Regions from separate parts of the Homo sapiens genome. Here all the other regions are linked to region 2. Evidence: fine-mapped expression QTL. A gene starts in region 2. Each other region holds a variant in brackets. All regions are shown on one strand. Distances are between the middles of the regions.

Evidence for each region. PIP is the estimated chance that this variant, and not a neighbour inherited with it, causes the effect. A credible set is the group of variants that fine-mapping cannot tell apart.
Region 1: its variant is the best candidate, but not a certain one, in a credible set for the expression of C5 in monocytes (Fairfax 2014, PIP 0.60).
Region 3: its variant is the best candidate, but not a certain one, in a credible set for the expression of C5 in whole blood (INTERVAL, PIP 0.68).

Annotation. Positions count from the first base shown.
Region 1 is chr9:121,106,375-121,109,235 of GRCh38, forward strand. CNTRL (centriolin) reads left to right here. Exons shown (of 44, transcript NM_007018.6): 8 at 1,428-1,621. Among named protein-coding and RNA genes, the nearest start is that of CNTRL, 33 kb to the left of the region's middle. The variant G/A (reference allele first, on the strand shown) is at 1,684.
Region 2 is chr9:121,049,024-121,051,523 of GRCh38, forward strand. C5 (complement C5) reads right to left here and starts at 1,252. Exons shown (of 41, transcript NM_001735.3): 1 at 1,159-1,252. The coding sequence starts at 1,223.
Region 3 is chr9:121,012,213-121,014,712 of GRCh38, forward strand. C5 (complement C5) reads right to left here. Exons shown (of 41, transcript NM_001735.3): 17 at 1,661-1,858. Among named protein-coding and RNA genes, the nearest start is that of C5, 37 kb to the right of the region's middle. The variant G/A (reference allele first, on the strand shown) is at 1,023.

The sequences.
Region 1 (2,861 bases), 58 kb after region 2:
AACAAGACATGGCTCAATTCTTTTGGTTCTGGAGAAGACATGAGAATGAGATTAGAGAAAAAAAGGAAAAATCCCTTGGTAGGAGTGACACTTTCTCCTTCAGAAAGGAGCAAAGATATGTGCAGGTGTGGGTAGTTTTGTTGCTGTGGTGGTGGGAAAATAGGGAGTTCTTATTGATGGGGTCATTTTCTTAATTAAAGGTGAGATAATCAGGTGAGAGAGAAAATAGAAGAAAGTGTATGGGAAGTTTGAGAAGAAAGAGGAAGGTATCAAATAGCCAATTTAGAGTGTTGGGAAATGAGCCTGTCTGTTCATTTGAAATTAGTTTTAGTCTGTTTTGACCTCCAAAAATGGCAATTTCATATGGTTTGATCCAACTTGAGAAACATGGCAAGTTTTTATTAGTTTGGAATCTCCCTAACTCAATATTTATTATTCTGAAGTTTATGTTTTGGAATCATTAAAAATATTAATAATGCAAAGGAAAGTCATCTAGATAACTTTTGGGTGAAATGGTTAGACTACTTATGGTTCCTTCATGCCTTCAGATATTAATTAGGAGACTTTAATGTGCTAGGCTATTAGATCTAGTCTAGGTGAGCCAGGTAGATGTAGTTTCTGCTTTTGTGACGCTTTAGTGGGGAAAGGCAGACAGCTAAGCTATTTGATCACATTTTACTACTCCCTGTGTGACAAGGGCCAAGCAGAATTTCAGGGTAGCATGGGAGTATACCTCAGAATCATCTAACCTGGTGACAGGATAGGGCCTGGGCAGGCTTCTCAAAATTTTTTTTTAAAACTTAAGACCTGTAGGATGCAAAATAGCCCAGTAGGAGGTAGAGGAAGACAGTTCTAGGGAAAGTGTGTGAATAAAAGCCTATAGGTGAGAAGAGGCATCACAAATCTGAAGAAATGGGATAACTTTAAGAAAGCTGCAGTAGAGTATGCTTGAAGATGAGGCAGAAGAGGGAGGTTGAGTCCAAATTATGAAGAACTTTATCAGCTTTTCGCAAGCCTTTTGGATCTTATCCTAAGAGTAACAGGAAGCTGTTGAAGGATTTTAAGATAATACAGAATTTTGCAAACATGTTTGCAGCATCCTTTTAAATGTAATTACTAATGTCTGATAAAATATTGCATGTTTTTCAAAGGTCACCTAGAAAAGAACTCATTTATCAGCACACTAATTGGATTAAATACTTGGAAGTAAAGTATTATCTTTTAAAAATATCATTGAAATGATGCCTTCTTGCCTCAATTTCAAGATCAGGATAGTCTTTTTTTCCAAAACCATGGTGGCTAATTTTAAAAGTAGAATTGTATTTACAATATTTTTAGACTTTTTTCACTATTGTTTGAGAAATATTCTTACCTTTTTAAAAATAGGAAATATAATGATAAATAAACTATTAAATTTTCATTGGCAGAAGAGGTAGAAAGACTGGAAAGAGACCTAGAAAAAAAGATGATAGAAACTGAAGAGCTTAAGAGCAAACAAACAAGGTTCCTTGAGGAAATTAAAAATCAAGATAAATTGAATAAATCATTAAAAGAGGAGGCCATGTTACAGAAACAGAGCTGTGAGGAACTCAAGAGTGACTTAAACACAAAAAATGAATTGGTAAGTTCATATTTTACATTGCTTTGGCTGTATTCTCATAAGACAGATAATTCTTTGCCCTT[G/A]GGTCTAAAAATACAACTTCCTGACCATATAATGGGGAAGATGTGGTTTAACAGAAATATGTGGAAAGGCTTATGAATTGTAGTTGACTGTGTGCTAGATGATATGGCTTCCCAAAAGACTAATGCTGTCTTGAGCTGCATTATGTACTCCTAGATATTTGTATTTTTTAAAAACAACATTGTAGGTGAGGCTGTTCATTGGCAAAAACATTTAGAAGGCGATCTGGCAAAATTATCCAAAATTTTGTGAGTTATAGGTCTTTTTGGACATGGAATCCATCTTTTATTACTAAGATAAAATATAATATCTTTATGCTGATTCCCTGGTGCACGTTACTCAGCCCATTGAAAACCTTGGCAAAATGTCAGACCTTAAGACTTTCCACTATCCCAAAACTATGAACTGTAGTTGCCTAGTTTTCTCTTTTGCTTATTTATAATGTTATTGATATGTTTGTGCTGTCAATAAATGTTTTGTAAACTGTCAGAAGTTTTTGCTTTTTTTTTCTATACCTATTTTTGTTAGAAGTCAGACTGTGCTCTTCTCTATGTCATTATGTTATTTTTATCATTAACCATTTAAAAACATGTTTATGCCAGGCGCCATCGCTCATGCCTTTAATCCCAACACTTTGGGATGCTGAGGTGCAAGGATCACTTGAGGTCAGAAATTCAACATCAGCCTGGGCAACATAATGAGACCCTGTCTCTACAAAAATAAAAATAAAATAAAAACACATTTATATACAAAATTAATGTATGTTCATTGTAACAAATTTAGACAACACAACTGTATTTAGCAGAAATGAAAGTCCACTCTTCCCTACCCCATTCCCCAGATATTAATACTTTGTTTTCCATGCTTCTTATACAGTATACATGTAATTACATAATGTATATATAATTAAGCATGTTATACCTTTGAATATTTTTGTAATGAAAAAAGGAATGTTACTGTATACAGTTATTCCTCTGTATCTGTGGGGGATTGGTTCCAGGACACCCCCATGGATACCAAAATCCATGGATGCTCAAGTCCTTTATGTAAAATGGTGTAGTATTTGCAAGTGACTTTCGTACATCCTCTAGTATACTTTAAAATCATTGCTAGATTACTTATAATACCTAAGACATTGTCAATGCTAATAAATATTATATTGTTTAGGAAATAATAATTA
Region 2 (2,500 bases):
TCTCCCACTAGAATGCAAGCTCTAGGAATTGTCTTACCGTTTGCTATATCTGCAGTGCCTATCATATGTTTAGATGCTCAATAAATATTTGTTGAATCAATCAATCAACCAATTAATTAAAGTGATTGATTGCCATGTTGTAAATGGTACACTCTGACTTCTTCAGAGAAAGTGAGGAAATAATTTTTATTAAGGGCTAGTAGAAAGAATTCAGAATAAGTCTGGACAAGAATCATGGAACCCAGGTCCTAGCCCTAGTTCTGCCACCAATTTGAAGTCACTTAATTTCAGTCTCTCTAAGCCTTAGCTGCTCGTCTTTCAAAAAGAATAAAGGCAGGATGCTAAGGTAGTTGAGTGCTTGTGGCCATGTAAAAAGATCACAGATCAGAAATACGAGGGTGCTAAAAAAGAATGACATCCTAAGTATGTGTTTATATATAATATATTTACATGTATACATTTATGACAAAATGAAAAAAATTGAAGTGATAAACAGGAGACCTTAATAAAAATCCTGTTTCTCTCTCTCTAGAACTGTGACCTTTGGTCAGTCACTTCCCTTATCTGGACTTATTCTCATATATAAAATGAATAGGTTTGATTAGATGATCTGCAGTTACTTTTCAGTATTAAAATATTTCTAGATATAAGATCATTATTTTTAAAACATTACTTAAAATGCATATTATCTCAATAATGACACTAAAAATTGTGAAAAGTCAGCTCATAAATGTATGGTAGAAGTCACTACAACAACAGATTTTCAGATCACAGTATTAGATTGACTCCTAAATAACCCTGGTTTAACTGTGTATAGTCTATGAAAAACACAAAGAAAACTAAACACCAAGTTAAAATAAGCAAAAAATGTCAAGAAAGTTTATTATCTGGAGTTTCTTTTGTGCTTTTTTGAAGAGGAATTTGAATAATCACTTAACGTAAATTTTAATAAATAACAATTCCATAAAAGCTGTCATGTTGTTAGCTACTCATCAAATCAAAATGCTTCCATGACTTTCTCATTCAGAGATGATACTATTCACTTGCTGTTCTCAGAAGTAGCAAGTTATTTTCAAGTTAACAGAATCTGTTAAATTTAACTCTTCATTCGTCATAACTAAGATGCATTGAAAAATGAAGATAGCTTGTTTTACTTACGTTTGCTCCTGTCCCCAGGTTTTCCCCAGGAAGATTAAAAAACAAAGTATTCCCAAAAGGCCCATGGTTGGAGGTAGCAGGAAACCACGGATATAACACTTTTGAGGATAGTCTCCTTTTAAATAAACTGAACTTGAAGAATTCAGATAATCTGGTTAATTATTAATGTCAGAAAGGTGAACCTCTAAGTGGGAAAACTAGAATTGGAACTAAAACACCCTTTCATGCCCAGGAATACAGATAGGGAGTACTTTACAGGAACTTACACCCAGGGAATTTATTTTTATTAATACAAATAAAGGGACCCTAAAATGGGAATTTGGCACTATGAAGAGTGGCTCAAAGCTAGAAACCAGTAAGCCCATTGCTTTGGCCTTTCTTCTCTTGCCCAGGGCATTTGCTTTGATGTTGCATCATCTGCAAGCATACATCTGGCAGGTCCACTCTAATACTGATGAAGACCCACCTGGACTCAGTTTCACACTGAAATGATTTTAGAAGGGGCCTGGTTTAGACAGGGCTCACAAGATGATCTTTTTTTGGTGACCTGAATGGCAGTGTCCTTGGTGCTGCAAATGGTCTGAGCATAACCTAGCTCTGCAAAGGAGGTCTAGGGAATTGTTCCTTGGTCTGTCTCAGTCTAGAGAACACTAGGTGGAGGAAAGTTGTGACTGGCAATGAAAACGCCATGTGGAGGATGCTGTCGTCATTCTCTAAGTATTGGAGAATAGATATTCTCCAATATTTATTAAGGCATATACCACTCGTTCAAAGTTTGTCTTTATTCAGATATAGAATATCTTTCTTTTAAAGAAAACACATGTTATACTTTTCAGTGAGGATTTTAATAATTTTAATATAAGAGCTCCAGAAAAACAAAGCTTCCTATAACAATTGAGTCTAGTAATTAATTCACAATATACTAAAATTTTATCTTTATACTTTTTTTTTTTTTTTTGGAGACAGAGTCTCTTTCTGTCGCCCAGGCTGGAGTCTAGTGGCACTATCTTGGCTCAGGGCAACCTCTGCCTCCCAGGTTCAAGGCATTCTCCTGCCTCAGCCTCCCAAGTAGCTGGGACTACAGGCATGTCCCATCACATCCAGCTAATTTTTTGTATTTTTAGTAGAGGTAGGGTTTCACCGTGTTGGCCAGGCTGGTCTCGAACTCCTGACCTCAGGTGATCCACCCACCTTGGCCTCCCAAAGTACTGGGATTACAGGCATGAGCCACTGTGCCTGGCTGATTTTTAATTAAGTTAATTTTTATGATGTTTTATGTTCATTAGAATTTTTTTATTTACTACCTTCTCTTTTTTAGTACTATTTTTACCTTAATATATAA
Region 3 (2,500 bases), 37 kb before region 2:
ATCTCGTGTACCCCGTAAATACTATTTACCCACATAAATTTAAAAATTAAAAAAAATTAAGAGAAAAAAAAGCCAAATCCTCCCTCCAAAAAGAAAAACAACATATGGACTAGACTGTTTATTAAAATTCTGCTTATAATAAGCAAATATTATTAGCCAGGCATGGTGGCAGGTGCATGTAATCCCAGCTACTTGGGAGGCTGAGGCAGGAGAATTGCTTGAACCCGGGAGGCGGAGGTTGCAGTGAGCTGAGACTGCGCCATTGCACTCCAGCCTGGGCAACAAAAACAAAACTCTGTCTCTCAAACAAACAAACAAACAAAGCAAAACAAATATTGGAAAACAATCTGAATCTTAGACACTGTACATCTCAATGAATATATTTCTACAAACATAAATTTTGTGGCCATTTACCAAAATTATGGTTATTAGATATTGCTTAACAATAGGGCTATGTTCTGAGAAATATGTTGTTAGATGATTTTGTTGTGTAACCATCATGGAGCGTACTTACACTAATCTAGATGGTATAACTTACTACAGATCTAGACTATATAGTATAGCCTATTTCTCCTAGGCTACAAACCTGTACAGCATGTTACTGAACAGAATACTGCAGACAACTGTAATGCAATGATAAGTATTTGTGTATCTAAGCATATCTAAACACAGGAAAGGTACAGAAAAAATACGGTATTATAATCCTATAGGATCACCGTTGCACATGTGGTCCATCATTGATGAAAATGTCATTACGCAGCACACATAAGTATAAAACAGAAGCTGTCATTTTGCTTTTGCTTGTTTTGTTAAAGACTATACATAGGCTGGGCACAGTGGCTCACGCCTGTAATCTCAGCACTTTGGGAGGCCGAGGTGGACGGATCACCTGAGGTCAGGAGTTCAAGACCAGCCTGGCCAATATGGTGAAACCCTGTCCCTACTAAAAATACAAAAATTAACCAGGTGTGGTGGCAGGCGCCTTTAATCCCAGTTACTCAGGAGGCTGAGGCAGGAGAATC[G/A]CTTGAACCCAGAGGCAGAGGTTGCAGTAAGCCAAGATTGCACCACTGCACTCCAGCCTGGGTGACAGAGCCAGATTCCTACTGAAAAAAAAAAAAAAAAAGACTATATATAAAGTCCTAAAAGTTCTGAAAACATGTTAATGAGAGTTCTATAAATTCTGGAAACATGTATTGTGGTTGAAACTGAAATAAGACATCAGCTTTTATATAAGTACACTTAACCTTAGGCTAGATTTAGAAATATTCTGCTTTATTTCATCAATGTAGATATAGACAGAATTTTTAATGGTTGTAATATCACAAAAGCGTAGACTTGTAGAACTCACAGGCATATTGGAGAGGATCTGGTCGAAGCTCCTTGCATGAGGCTCAGAGAGGATAAATAATCATTCAAGTTTATGGGATGACTTGGCTTTAAGGTTATGCCAGGTCTTAACTCTGGCCTAGTGTACTCTGCTCTGTACTGTACCTCTTCGGATGCCCAAAAATGAAGGATTTTTTTTTCTTATGGACATTTACAAGTTATCTTTTCTACTTTCAATTCTAAATAGATCATGAAAACTGCCTTTCTTAGCAGCATAAAATTACACAAAATTCCCCATATTGAGCAGAATTCTGATAGAAAATGTCATACTTACGTAGCCTTCCCAATTGCATGTCTTTATGAGAGATATTAGCACGGAGCTGGCTTGCGACGACACAACATTCAGTGAAAGCTTTGATGCATCTTGGCCCTAAACTAATCCGTGCAGCTCGCTGCTCACAGGTTTCATCATTATTAACGCAGGCTCCATCGTAACAACATTTCTTCACTACTGAATGTTTATATTTAGCAGCTGAAATGGTAATAATGCAAGTGCTCTTGATGACGCAGAGTGATAACATCTCAGGCTTAGAAGGAATCTCAAGGGATACCTGGTTTCTGTTGCTATATGATCCCCCTACCCACAATAGTTATGGCTAGTTGACTGTCCAGACTCCCCTTGGAACTATTCTAAGAATGGGGAGAATGTGACCTTACCAAATGGTCCATTCCAGCTCACACTAAATGGTTAAAGGGTTTCCTGCAATTAAGCTAAATACTAACTCTTGAAACTGGAACTTTGGGTTCTGCTGAAAATATGCAGAAAAATATAGAAAAAGAATAGAAAATGTTTTTTAAGAAAATAAGTTAAATATCCAAGAAGCCTTCAAATATTTGAAGATGGCTATCATCACTATACAAATATTTCCTTCTTCAAGCTGAATATCCTATTTTTCAAAAACTTCTTATATAACATGGTTTGTGGACTTCACCTAGTAGCATTATCCTTCATTGTAAGTGCTCAGATTAGTCAATGTCTCTCTTTTCATATCATTAGAACTTAGAATAAAGGTTAGAATTAAAATAACTCATATACAAATGGAAGAAACTATTATATTACCATAGGCATGATATTAGTTGAACTCAATTTGCTGACTCCCAGTTTGATATTCTT